4 separate regions of the Homo sapiens genome follow, and regions 2, 3 and 4 are each reported to be linked to region 1. The links are microRNA targets in miRTarBase. Many come from high-throughput screens and were not tested one by one. Region 1 holds a microRNA gene; each other region holds the end of a gene's coding sequence. Distances are between the middles of the regions.
The links. Region 1 holds the annotated microRNA hsa-miR-6883-5p (AGGGAGGGUGUGGUAUGGAUGU, at 1,988-2,009, opposite strand). A microRNA usually pairs through its seed, bases 2 to 8, with sites in the 3' UTR of a target mRNA and lowers its output. Matches are read on the target gene's strand: a 7mer-m8 pairs with bases 2 to 8, a 7mer-A1 pairs with bases 2 to 7 and ends in A, and an 8mer does both.

Region 2: miRTarBase lists CEP43 as a target of hsa-miR-6883-5p. The part of its 3' UTR that is shown has no 7-base or 8-base seed match.
Region 3: the mRNA of TTC9C is a reported target of hsa-miR-6883-5p. The part of its 3' UTR that is shown has no 7-base or 8-base seed match.
Region 4: miRTarBase lists IGFBP4 as a target of hsa-miR-6883-5p. Seed matches in the 3' UTR shown: 7mer-m8 at 1,266-1,272.

Annotation. Positions count from the first base shown.
Region 1 is chr17:8,143,058-8,146,170 of GRCh38, forward strand. It overlaps MIR6883 (microRNA 6883), which reads right to left and starts at 2,014; the gene lies at 1,937-2,014. PER1 (period circadian regulator 1) reads right to left here. Exons shown (of 23, transcript NM_002616.3): 17 at 2,901-3,080; 18 at 1,694-1,936; 19 at 209-819.
Region 2 is chr6:167,039,436-167,042,548 of GRCh38, reverse strand. It overlaps CEP43 (centrosomal protein 43), which reads right to left. Exons shown (of 13, transcript NM_007045.4): 13 at 1-2,645. The coding sequence ends at 2,571. Among named protein-coding and RNA genes, the nearest start is that of CEP43, 42 kb to the right of the region's middle.
Region 3 is chr11:62,737,709-62,740,799 of GRCh38, forward strand. TTC9C (tetratricopeptide repeat domain 9C) reads left to right here. Exons shown (of 3, transcript NM_173810.4): 3 at 580-928. The coding sequence ends at 674. Among named protein-coding and RNA genes, the nearest start is that of TTC9C, 11 kb to the left of the region's middle.
Region 4 is chr17:40,456,319-40,459,419 of GRCh38, forward strand. It overlaps IGFBP4 (insulin like growth factor binding protein 4), which reads left to right. Exons shown (of 4, transcript NM_001552.3): 4 at 131-1,407. The coding sequence ends at 265. Among named protein-coding and RNA genes, the nearest start is that of IGFBP4, 14 kb to the left of the region's middle.

The DNA.
Region 1 (3,113 bases):
GATGTCCTCACCACCTGTCAGACAGACAGGACTGTCCCTTCAAAGAGGAGGTAGCCAATTTCTGCCTCATTCAGAAATTCAGCTGGGGACTCCCTCCACCTCCTGGAGGCTGAGACGCCAGCCTGGCAGAGACAGCAGGCAGCACAGGGTGGCAGAGGGGCGGGGCTGGGGTGGGGGCTGGCAGGCAGACGCAGGGGTCAGTGCTCACCAGTCTGGCCTCTGGCTCAGCAGCCTCCGCACTGGGAGGTGGGGGCCCGGCACTGCTCCCAGGGCCTCCTGCAACAGCAGCCCCCTCAGCACGGGGGAGCTCCTCCAGCTGCAGCAGATTGAGCTGGAGTGGAGAGCTGCATCTCGAGTTGAACAGTGGAGAGTCCGGGCGGTGAGGAGGACTCGGGGCGAGGGCGGGCAAGGATGGAGAAGGGGAGTGCGAGGCAGGAGTGGGAGGCCCTTCAGCAGGGGTCTGGAGTGCCCCATAAGGATAGCTGGATGGGGTTGGGAACAGATAGTTAGGGAGCACCAAGGCCACCATTGGGGTCACCAAAGGGGCGGGGAAAGCAGCTGGGGGCACAGATGTGGGAGCAGGGGGAAGAGGCTGGGGGCCTCCTCGAGGAGAGAACACTGGGAGAGGGTAGGGCTGGACAACCGCTGGGAAGGGGGTAGTGGCTGGTGGGGTGGGCCAGGGGGTGGAGGGTGGCACGGGTGAGGGGTGTGAGACATAGCAGGGCGCTTCAGCCCGAGGGTTCTGGTGGTGGCGTGAGCGCTTGGCTTTGGATCGGCAGTGGTGTCGGCGGCTTGGGGGTGCGGGGCCGTGGTGGCAGCCTGTGGGGAGAGACTAGGGTTAGCAAGGACCTCAACCTGGGGTTAGTACCCCTGCTACCCACACTGCCCTGACACGCTGACCAGGGAGAGGACAGGCCAAGGTCCCAGAGAGAGCTTCTCAACCCACACAGAACGGGGGACTCAGGAGGTGGGGCACCTTCAGGGAAGAATCACAGGAGCCAGGGACAAGGGGATTTATTGAGAAAGGAACAAGGCCAGGGAGAGGTTACACGAGGGGTCGAGCTGGGGGTGTGCGGAAGATGGAGGCATGCTGGCAGATGGAGGAAGCAGGGTGAGTCCATGGACACATGGACAGATGGCTCTGGTCCGCCAAACTCCTGTGGGCACTGCCAGCCTAGGCATTCCTCCTGCCCATCGAGGCCGTATTCTGCCTAGCTTGCAATGGAGTGAAGAGTGGGGCTGGAAAGCCCAGTCCTGAGTCCTGCGTCTGCCTGCAGGGGATCTCCCTCAGGCACCTGGAGGGGCTGCCTTCCACCTGCCCTTGAAGCCCAGACCCCACCCAGAGTTGGCCCAGAATCTATGCATGTCTCTTCATCAGTGACAACTGACTCCTAAGTGGGCATACTTCCTGCCCCTGCCCCCAGGCTAGGCCTGAAGTCGCTTACCTGGAGACAGCACCTCTGCCTGCCCATCCCAGTGCCATCCCCCCAGGCTGCCCTCCTCTGGCTGCAGCCCGGAACCCCATCCTAGTGGGGAGAAGCTAGCGAGGGGCCTGTCCCTAGGCAGGGCCTAGTGGTGGAAGCAACACCAGCCTGGGTCCCTGGAGCAGAAACACCTCCCTTAAGACCCACCCCCCAACAATCCAGTCCTAGACTGGGCAGAGGGCAGGCTCCAGGAGGCCCCAGGTGGCTACCTCGCTCGCCAAGGGCTGAGGGAGCTGTGGAAGAGCTGTCGAGTCCACGCAGCCTGCCCAGGTCTCGGAAGCGGCTGAGGAAGGCTTGCTCTTCCTTCTGTGTGTGCAGGGACAGCACGGCCTTGGTCAGCCCCACTGGACGGTAGGCGTCTGGGGCTGGGTCAGGGGCTACTGTGGGGCTGGGGGCTGGGCTGGGGGCTGGGCCTGGGGCTAGGCCAGGCAGGTCCTCCATCATGATGATGTCTGAGGAGAGTGAGATAGGGAAAGGTCATCAGAACCACTTCAGGGGTCAACACATCCATACCACACCCTCCCTGTCTGATAGCCTAGCCAACCCCTGGCAGCTCTGCCCCACAGCCAAGCCTGGTCTCCATGTACGTTTCTTGGTCACCTCTCTGCCAACGGCTGGCCCTGGGTCCTCCTCTCCATGCAAAGCTGGCCCAGAAGAAGAGACGATACTCAGGCCCCTCCAGTGGCCACTCCCTGCCAGGAACTCTACTGGGATGACCCCGTCACAACTCTCATTGGAAGAGAAGCCCACCCCTTGGCCTTCCCTCACACATTTTCTTGTTTCTTTTTTTTTTTTTTTTTGACATGGAGTCTCACTCTTTCTCCCAAGCTGGAGTGCAGTGGTGCGATCTCAGCTCACTGCAACCACCACCCCCTGGGTTCAAGCGATTCTCCTGTCCCAGCCTCCCGAGTAGCTGGGACTACAGGCGCGCGCCACCACGCCCGGCTAATTTTTGCATTTTTAGTAGATACAGGGTTTCACCATGTTGCCCAGGCTGATCTCGAGCTCCTGATCTCAGGTGATCCTCCTACCTCAGCCTCCCAAAATGCTGGGATTACAGGCCTGAGCCACCATGCCCAGCCCCTCATGATTTTCAAGGTCAATATCCAAAGACCCTTCAGGGATGTTCAATTTTCCTTGCCTTCAGACCCTGTGTGGTCAGCACCTCAGGGCAAACCCTCTATCCCAGACTCTGTGTTTCAACTGACAGTAACAATACGAGAAGCAGAACAGGGGAAGGGCAAAGCCGAGAAGCCTGGCAGGGAGGGGAGAGCAAGAAGCAGTAGCCCCAAGCCCCAGGTCAAGGGAGGCCTCCTTCTCTCCATCAGGCCCTAGAGGGGAGGGGAAAGGCAGGAGGGAGCTCTAGCTGGGAGACCGGTGGAGCCCAAGCACTGCCCCCCAATTCCACACCCATACCCGACTCCGGGGGCTTCTTGTCTCCCACATGGACGATGGTGGAGCTGAAGCTACACTGACTGGTGACGGACACCACACTCTCCGCCTTATTGGCCAGGGCGAGCGGGCTCAGGGTGCCTCCCACCACTGGCTCCTTCCGTGGGGTGGCCCCCTCCCCAGACAGCGCTGCTGACGGCGGATCTGTGCAGAGAGATGGTGCCAGTTACCATCCCC
Region 2 (3,113 bases), not on the chromosome of region 1:
GGTGCATGGGCAGGAGAGGGAAGTAAGGAGGGGAGGAAGAGCTGTGGGCAAGCATGAGGCAGGGACTAATGGCATCTACACAACTGCCCACAGGTTGTTATCCAACATAAAGTATAAAAGCACAACCGAATATCAACAAAGAGAATAAATGCTTTTTATTCATTTGTAGTTATCAATAAAATGAAAGAAAGACCTAGCATTTTTAAAACTCCACTGTAAAACATAGGTTACCATAAAAATGTATTTAATGGGTTAATATTTCAATATTTATTTTTTAACAGAAAACACTCATCACATGCAAAACCTGTCACTTCACATCTTCAAGTTTCATAAGTTGATAATACCTAATCAAAAAGTACATGTGAAAAGAAAGCTTTTTCATAGTTGAACTTTAAGTCATTCAAAATCATTCAATAAAATGGATGTAGTACTGGCCAGGTGCGGTGGTTCACGCCTGTAATCCCGGCACTTTAGGAGGCTAAGGCAGGAACGAGGTCAGGAGTTCAAGACCAGCCTGACCAACATGGTGAAACCCCATCTCTACTAAAAATACAAAAATTAGCCGGGCGTGGTGGTGTGCACCTGTAATCCCAGCTACTCAGGAGGCTGAAGCAGGAGAATCGCTTGAACCCAGGAGGCGGAGGTTGCAGTGAGCCGAGATCGCATCACTGTACTCCAGTCTGAGTGACACAGTGAGACTCTGTCCCCCCCGCCCCCCGCAAAAAAAAGATGTATGTAGTGCTGACAAAAAAGTTTCATATTTGGCATATTTCTTTTACCCTCCCAAATATTATCAAAAGGTCTGATTCTCTGCGTAACAGAAAAGTGACAAATTTCAGTTGCTACTGTTCGAAAGTTTCATAAATTTAAAAAGCCACATCCTGCTATGCTTTCAAATCATTTCACTGAAACCTAGTTCCTATCAAATATTAAAAATAAATCATACATGTGATCCAGATTCCAGGGGACCAGAACTATAGTGCTTTTAGAAAGTGACTGTTTACAGAGATGACTTACAAAGAAATGCATTTTATAACAACCACACTGGGGGACTGCAACAAGATTACATCTGCACGTGGTGCTGTTTACTAAGACATGAAGAGCTGAAGGAGACTGAGATAGCAGCTCACAGACGGAGGGCAGAAATACACAGGGCTCCCAGGCTGTACCGGCCCAGTTTATGTCCTACTTCCTCTTGATGTTTACAGCTTAGTTTCACTTAAATTTTAAAAAGCCAGATTCTGTTACACAGCCTTAATCCTTACATTTTCATTTCCTCTACATTTTAGAGCCCAAGGAGTAATTTCTGTAATATTTAGGCTAATATGAAATGAGAAACTGGCATTACACAAGTCATGCAGTCTGCTCACTTAACCGAGATCAATGAATTAGGTCTAATTTGCTCCTTTTACTAATAAAGTTAACTTGTAGTAAAAAGCCGCAACTTAATTGAAATTATAAAGTGCAAAAACAGCACAATCCTGCTTTACTTATATATAAATATGCATGCATCACTTTCTACTGTTTTTTCTACTTGCACATTTTAAAATACTTTAGTATTATAAACATCCGTGACCTACATAATAGCAATAATGCTTTAACCGTATAAATGAGACTGTGGAAATTCTATTATTGGCTCTATTTTTAAGGGTTACAATGAAATTATGTACAGTATATAAAGCTTGTCAAACTGAACATGGTCTTAGGCCATTACTACTATTTCATTCCAATTTGGATTTTAATACAATTAACTTACAGATCTGAAATAAAAGCACTGCTTAATGGTTTCAGATGCATTTAAGTTTCAAGGAATCTTTACAGATAATAAATTATAATGAAGAGAACCTACGACTAAAGCTGCTTACATGGATAACAGGAGGAATGACGATTGCAAATGTTATGTTATTGACAATTCTATGAATTAAAACTCATAACCACTTCTAGATTTCTTTAAAACAAGCAAAACTAAATAGCACACACAAGAGTACTTTAATATAACCTTAATGGTCTAACAAACCTTCCAAATGGAAGGAAATACAAAATAAAGTTGACACATCAAATTTAACTTATACTAATATACTTCAGCATTACAAATTTACCAAGTCATTTTGCCAACTATGTGTAGAACCACCTAATATCAAAATATACTATGGTGGGTAAGCTCTGATTCCAGAGGGCTAAAGCCAAGGTTTTCAAAGATCACACGTACCAGCAGCCACACACACAAAGGGTTGCGCGATCCTACGGCTTTATTGACACCTTTCATCATGCTCTTAACACTGATGTTTTCATGGGTTCCTTCCCTGTAATGAAACTGAGTGTAGATAATCAATTTCCATAAAGAAATGTACAGTTAAATTAAGAATATTAAATCTTCCACACATGGGCTCAAATAGGAAGTATTTTGTTTAGTAAAATGAAAATTACTTTTAAAAAATATCTGCAGTGTTTTTGAAATGCAAGGCACCAATAGAGAGCAGACATTCCAGCTGAGTGATTGTCTGGAAAAAAAAAAAATGGAACCGGTCAGTCCTCTGTCCTTGTTAATTAGAATACTTCCTTCTTCGTGTCTATGCAACATCTTCCAGATAATCCGCAACATCACTGAGCTGGGATACAGTCAGATCTTGTGTGAGGTCATCAAGCTTTGTTGTTCAAAAGAAAGAAAATAATTAAGTGTCAGAATGTGAGTAGTCTTAAGTTATTTTAAAAAATCAAAGCCACAATGAGATACCACCTTACTCCTGCAAGAATGGCCATAATCAAAAAATCAAAAAATAATATAAATGTCAGTGAAGATGTGGTGAAAAGGGAACACTTTTACACTGTTGGTGGGAATGTAAACTAGTACAACCACTATGGAAAACAGCGTGGAGATTCCTTAAAGAACTAAAAGTAGAACTACTGTTTGATCCACCAATCCCACTACTGGGTATCTACCCAGAGGAAAAGAAGTCATTATATGAAAAAGATACTTGCACACGCATGTTTACAGCAGCACAATTCCGAATTGCAAAAACATGAAACCCAGCCCAAATGCCCATCAATCAACAACTGGATAAAGACATTGTGGTATATACATACCATGGAATACTACTCAGCCATAAAAAGGA
Region 3 (3,091 bases), not on the chromosome of region 1:
TGCTTCATCAATCTTGCTTTCATTATGAAATTAGCAACCAGTGTCCAGGCATGGTGGCTCACACCTGTAATCCCAGCACTTTGGGAGGCCAAGGCGGGTGGATCACGAGGTCAGGAGTTCCAGACCAGCTTGGCCAACATGGTGAAACCCCATCTCTACTAAAAATACAAAAATTAACCAAGCATGGTGGTGCATGCCTGTAATCTCAGCTACTTGGGAGGCTGAGGCATGAGAATTGCTTGAACCCGGGAGGCGGAGGTTGCAGTAAGTGGAGATCCCATGCTATTGCACTCTAGCCTGGGTGACAGAGCGAGACCCTGTCTCAAAAGTAAGTAAATAAATAAAATAAATAAATAAATAAATAAATAAAAATTAGCAGCCGGGACAGAGATTGTTTTTTTTCAATTCCAAATGTTATTAATTAATGAGATTTACTATTGCATAGAATGGTTGCGATATATTCAGATCTTGGAGAGATTTTAAAATGGGAGCATGTTAACATTCTCTCCTGCCACAAGGTATGATTATGGTCTTAACTGACTCTAACTGTTTCTAATTGCTTCTCCATCATCTTCCAAGATGCCAACGTCCGGCGGTACCTCCAGCTGACACAGTCAGAACTCAGCAGCTACCATAGAAAAGAGAAGCAGCTCTACCTGGGCATGTTTGGTTAACAAAGAAGAAAGATGCTCCTCCAGTTGAACTTAGGTGGACCATTAAACATGCATGAAGGAGAAATCTGAGCCTCAGCAAGAGAAATTAACCCTATACCTCTGACCCAGGTGGATTTTTGTTTCTAGTTCTGCACAAACTTCACTACTTAGACAGTCTGAGTCTTTTTCTGTCTATCCATCTGTTTATTTCTATACCTTTCAATACATGTTATTGTTGCAGATATTTGGCTTGAGAAATATAATCAGAAAACATACATCAGTTGTGGGTGGAATTAATCATATCTCTGGTATAGATTTTTCATGACAGTGTTGTTAGATGTACTTATATACAGAGGCGACAGCTTGCAGAGGACGACATAGTAAGGATAGGCAGAAAGAATTGTCTTCCTTTATTTTTTCAGAAGCCCAAACCAAAGTGGGAAATATGGCCGGGCGCTCTAGCTCATGCCTGTAATCCCAGCACATTGGGAGGCTGAGGCCAGCGGATCACCTGAGGTCAGGAGTTCAAGACCAGCCTGACCAACAGGGTAAAACCCTGTCTCTACTAAAAATACAAAAATTAGCCTGGCAAGATGACACACGCCTGTGGTCTCAGGTACTGGAAACTAGACAATTATAAATGAGCCAGGCTGGGCATGGTGGCTCACGCCTGTAATCCCAGCACTTTGGAAGGCAGAGGTAGACAGATAGATAGCTTGAGTCCAGGAGTTCAAGACCAGCCTGGGGAACACAGTGAAACCCTGTCTCTATAAAAGATGCAAAGATGGCCGGGCACGGTGGGTCAGGCCTGTAATCCCAGCACTTTGGGAGGCCGAGGCAGGTAGATCATGAGGTCAGGAGATTGAGACCATCCTGGCTAACACAGTGAAACCCCGTCTCTACTAAAAATACAAAAAATTAGCCGGGCGTGGTGGTGGGCGCCTGTAGTCCCAGCTACTCGGGAGGCTGAGGCAGGAGAATGGCATGAACCCGGGAGGTGGAGCTTGCAGTGAGCAGAGATCACGCCACTGCACTCCAGCCTGGGCAACAGAGCGAGACTCCGTCTCAAAAAAAAAAAAAAATGCAAAGATTAGCTGGGCCAGGTGTTCACCTGTAGTCCCAGCTATTCTGGAGGCTAAGGTGGGAGGATTGCTTGAATCTGGAGGGCAGCGGTTGCAGTGAGCCAAGATCCTGACACAGCACTCCAGCCTGGGTGACAGAGTGACGTGTCTCAATAAATAAATAAGCCCAAATATACTAAAGTAACTTTTTGTTTTTTGAGACAGAGTCTCACTCTGTTGCCCAGTCTGGAGTGCAGTGGTGCCATCTTGGCTCACTGCAACCTCTGCCTCCCAGGTTCAAGTGATTCTCGTGTCTGAGCCACCCAAGCAGCTGGGATTACAGGCATGTGCCACCACGCCCGGCTAATTTTTTTGTATTTCCTTTTTAGTAGAGACATGGTTTTGCCATGTTGGCCAGGGTGCTCTTGAACTCCTGGCCTCAAGTGATCCACCCACTCGGGCTCCCAAAGTGCTGGGATTACAGGTGTGAGCCACTATGCCTGGCCAAAAGTAACCATTTTGTTTAATTTTTTCTTTTTCTTTTAATTTTAAGTTCCAGGATCCATGTGCAGGATATGCAGGTTTGTTACATAGGGAAACGTGTGCCTCGGTGGTTTGCTGCACCTATCAACACATCACCTCGGTATTAAGTCCAGCATGTATTAGCTATTTTTCCTCATGTTCTCCCACCCCCCGCCACAGCCCCTGTTAAATTAATTTCTTATTCTCCTTAATATTCCATACACATTCAGATTCCTTCTCCCCTACAAAAATATTTGCTATTTTGTCCTTGCTATTTCTCATACTTAGATCATTCATACACTATATTTATTTTTTCATTAAACTATTTTAAAACCTTTGGAGTAAAGCATTTAAGTATTTATTTAATAAACCCTTCAGACCTCATGCTAAAGAAAACACCTAAGTGAACATTTTAAATTTTAATAGGTGCTTATCTATAGTATCCTCATTTCTCTTAAAAAAAAAAAAAAAAAAAAAAAAAAAAAAAAAGACCATCCTGGCTAACACGGTGAAACTCCGTCTCTACTAAAAATACAAAAAAAAAAAATTAGCTGGGCTTGGTAGCGTGTGCCTGTAGTCCCAGCTACTCGGGAGGCTGAGGCAGGAGAATGGCGTGAACTCAGGAGGTGGAGCTTGCAGTGAGCCGAGATCACGCCACTGCACTCCAGCCTGGGTGACAGAGAGAGACTCCATCTCAAAAAAAAGAAAAGATTATCACATCTTCTAAAAACATACATACTAGCCGGGTACGGTGGCTCATGCCTGTAATCCCAACACATTGGGAGTCTGAGGCGGGTGGATCACTTGAGGTCCGGAGTTCAAGACCAGCCTGGCCAACATGGCGAAACCCCATCT
Region 4 (3,101 bases), 32 Mb from region 1:
CCACCCTCAGAGGCCATCTTGAAGCAGCGACCGTCTGACTTGGGGGCTGGGCTGGGCTGGGATTGGGGTGGGTCACTTGGGGTCTCTTTTCCTGCGTCGGAACTGACCCCTCATGTCCTTCTCTTGGCAGTGTCACCCAGCTCTGGATGGGCAGCGTGGCAAGTGCTGGTGTGTGGACCGGAAGACGGGGGTGAAGCTTCCGGGGGGCCTGGAGCCAAAGGGGGAGCTGGACTGCCACCAGCTGGCTGACAGCTTTCGAGAGTGAGGCCTGCCAGCAGGCCAGGGACTCAGCGTCCCCTGCTACTCCTGTGCTCTGGAGGCTGCAGAGCTGACCCAGAGTGGAGTCTGAGTCTGAGTCCTGTCTCTGCCTGCGGCCCAGAAGTTTCCCTCAAATGCGCGTGTGCACGTGTGCGTGTGCGTGCGTGTGTGTGTGTTTGTGAGCATGGGTGTGCCCTTGGGGTAAGCCAGAGCCTGGGGTGTTCTCTTTGGTGTTACACAGCCCAAGAGGACTGAGACTGGCACTTAGCCCAAGAGGTCTGAGCCCTGGTGTGTTTCCAGATCGATCCTGGATTCACTCACTCACTCATTCCTTCACTCATCCAGCCACCTAAAAACATTTACTGACCATGTACTACGTGCCAGCTCTAGTTTTCAGCCTTGGGAGGTTTTATTCTGACTTCCTCTGATTTTGGCATGTGGAGACACTCCTATAAGGAGAGTTCAAGCCTGTGGGAGTAGAAAAATCTCATTCCCAGAGTCAGAGGAGAAGAGACATGTACCTTGACCATCGTCCTTCCTCTCAAGCTAGCCAGAGGGTGGGAGCCTAAGGAAGCGTGGGGTAGCAGATGGAGTAATGGTCACGAGGTCCAGACCCACTCCCAAAGCTCAGACTTGCCAGGCTCCCTTTCTCTTCTTCCCCAGGTCCTTCCTTTAGGTCTGGTTGTTGCACCATCTGCTTGGTTGGCTGGCAGCTGAGAGCCCTGCTGTGGGAGAGCGAAGGGGGTCAAAGGAAGACTTGAAGCACAGAGGGCTAGGGAGGTGGGGTACATTTCTCTGAGCAGTCAGGGTGGGAAGAAAGAATGCAAGAGTGGACTGAATGTGCCTAATGGAGAAGACCCACGTGCTAGGGGATGAGGGGCTTCCTGGGTCCTGTTCCCTACCCCATTTGTGGTCACAGCCATGAAGTCACCGGGATGAACCTATCCTTCCAGTGGCTCGCTCCCTGTAGCTCTGCCTCCCTCTCCATATCTCCTTCCCCTACACCTCCCTCCCCACACCTCCCTACTCCCCTGGGCATCTTCTGGCTTGACTGGATGGAAGGAGACTTAGGAACCTACCAGTTGGCCATGATGTCTTTTCTTCTTTTTCTTTTTTTTAACAAAACAGAACAAAACCAAAAAATGTCCAGATGATTGTGTTTGGTTGATTTATTCTCAGTTAGACACAGGGATGCACCAGGGGTGGAGAGACGGGGACAGATTTTGGGAGGTGAGTATTGTGTGGTCCCCAGACCTGTCTGTATGGTAAGGGACTGCAGAAGGACGGCCAATCCACCTTCCTCTTCCCTGCAACGGAAGTTTCCTAGGGAACTCCTTGGCTTCAAAGTCTGCGCTGTCTTTACTTAGACTCCTGGTGGGCAAACAATGGCTCCTGAAAGGGGGGCATGACCAAGGACAGCCCTGTGGGGGCAGAGCTGTCTCTGGGATCAGCTGGCATGTGGGGCTGGGGCATTTCCTAGGGCATCGGGCGGACTGGGCTTGCATCTGGATTTGATTTATTAATTTGTTGGGGAGGGGCAGGGACACTGCCCTGCATTTGAGGAAAGGGGGTAGATGCTTCAGCACATTCCACAGCTCTGACTGCCGAGATCTCTGACTCGGGCATTGTGCTGAGATTGGATTCTGAGGTTGGGAGGGGTTGACTTTGCTGTAGACTCAGTGCCAGCCACAGCTTCAGAGATTGTGCTCACATGGTATGCCTGGACTCTTGGCCATCCTCCAAATGCCCCTCCCCTCCCACACCTCTGTGCCTTGTGTGTGTGTGTGCACGCATGTGTGTGGCAGGGGGTGGAGGGTCCGGGAGCAGAAGCTGATCTCTCGGTGGGGGCCTTTTTCCAGGAGGTTGCAGGCAGTCTGGAGACGCTGCATTGAGCCTGCCGCCCGCTGCGCGGGCTCCCTCCTATCTAGCTGTGTCCTGGATTCTCAGCCCCCTCCCCAGCTCCAGAGGCGCTTCCAGGCTTCTGATTTCACTGGGCCCCAACTTTGTTGGCACCTGTCCCGTCTGCATCTTGAGGCTGGGTCTGCAGTTCTGTCTCTCTAGCTCTGCCCCAGCAGCAAAGTCCTGCAGCCATCTGGTCTCCCTGAGGCACCACGGCGGCTGCCAGCAGCAGGAGATAAAGAACAAAGTGGTGTTGAGGGTTGCTTCCTCAGCCCCAGCCACTCTTCACAGAGTCCCCTCCTTCTGGAGCCCAGGCCAAGGCCTGTGGGGATGGGAGGTGGTGCACGCTGAAGATTAAGTTTTAGGTTTCAAGTTTAGGGAAAGTATCTCTTTCCCTAAGGCATCTTTTTCAACCCCCTTGTCTCTAGTCCCCTTCCCGATGCTCTAGGCTTGCACCCTTGGCAGTGGTGGTAGGAGGTCCTTTTTCTTTCATGGGCCTCCCAAAAAAGCCAAATTGGCTTGGAAGTAGCTGTGTGCATGGCCTGGGTGTAACTTCGTGACATACGTGCATTTGTGGAGTATGTGTGTGTGCATGCATGTGAGTATGACGCAGTGACACCTGAAACGTGAGTGTATGGGCTTTTTGGGGGTGTGCATGCCTGTTTGATGTGTGAAGGGAAGGTGTGCCATTTGTGTGGTGTGTATATGTGGTGTGTGCATTTGTGTGGTGTGCATTTGTGTGGTGTGTATATGTGGCGTGTGCATTTGTGTGGTGTGTATATGTGGCGTGTGCATTTGTGTGGTGTGCATTTGTGTGGTGTGTATATGTGGCATGTGAACACGTGTGCGATGTGAGGAGAGAGGGAGTGAGACATTCACGGAGCACGCCTGTCTCTCCTGGCTGTGGATGACTGGACTCTCGCTCATTAGGTGATCCCACCTCA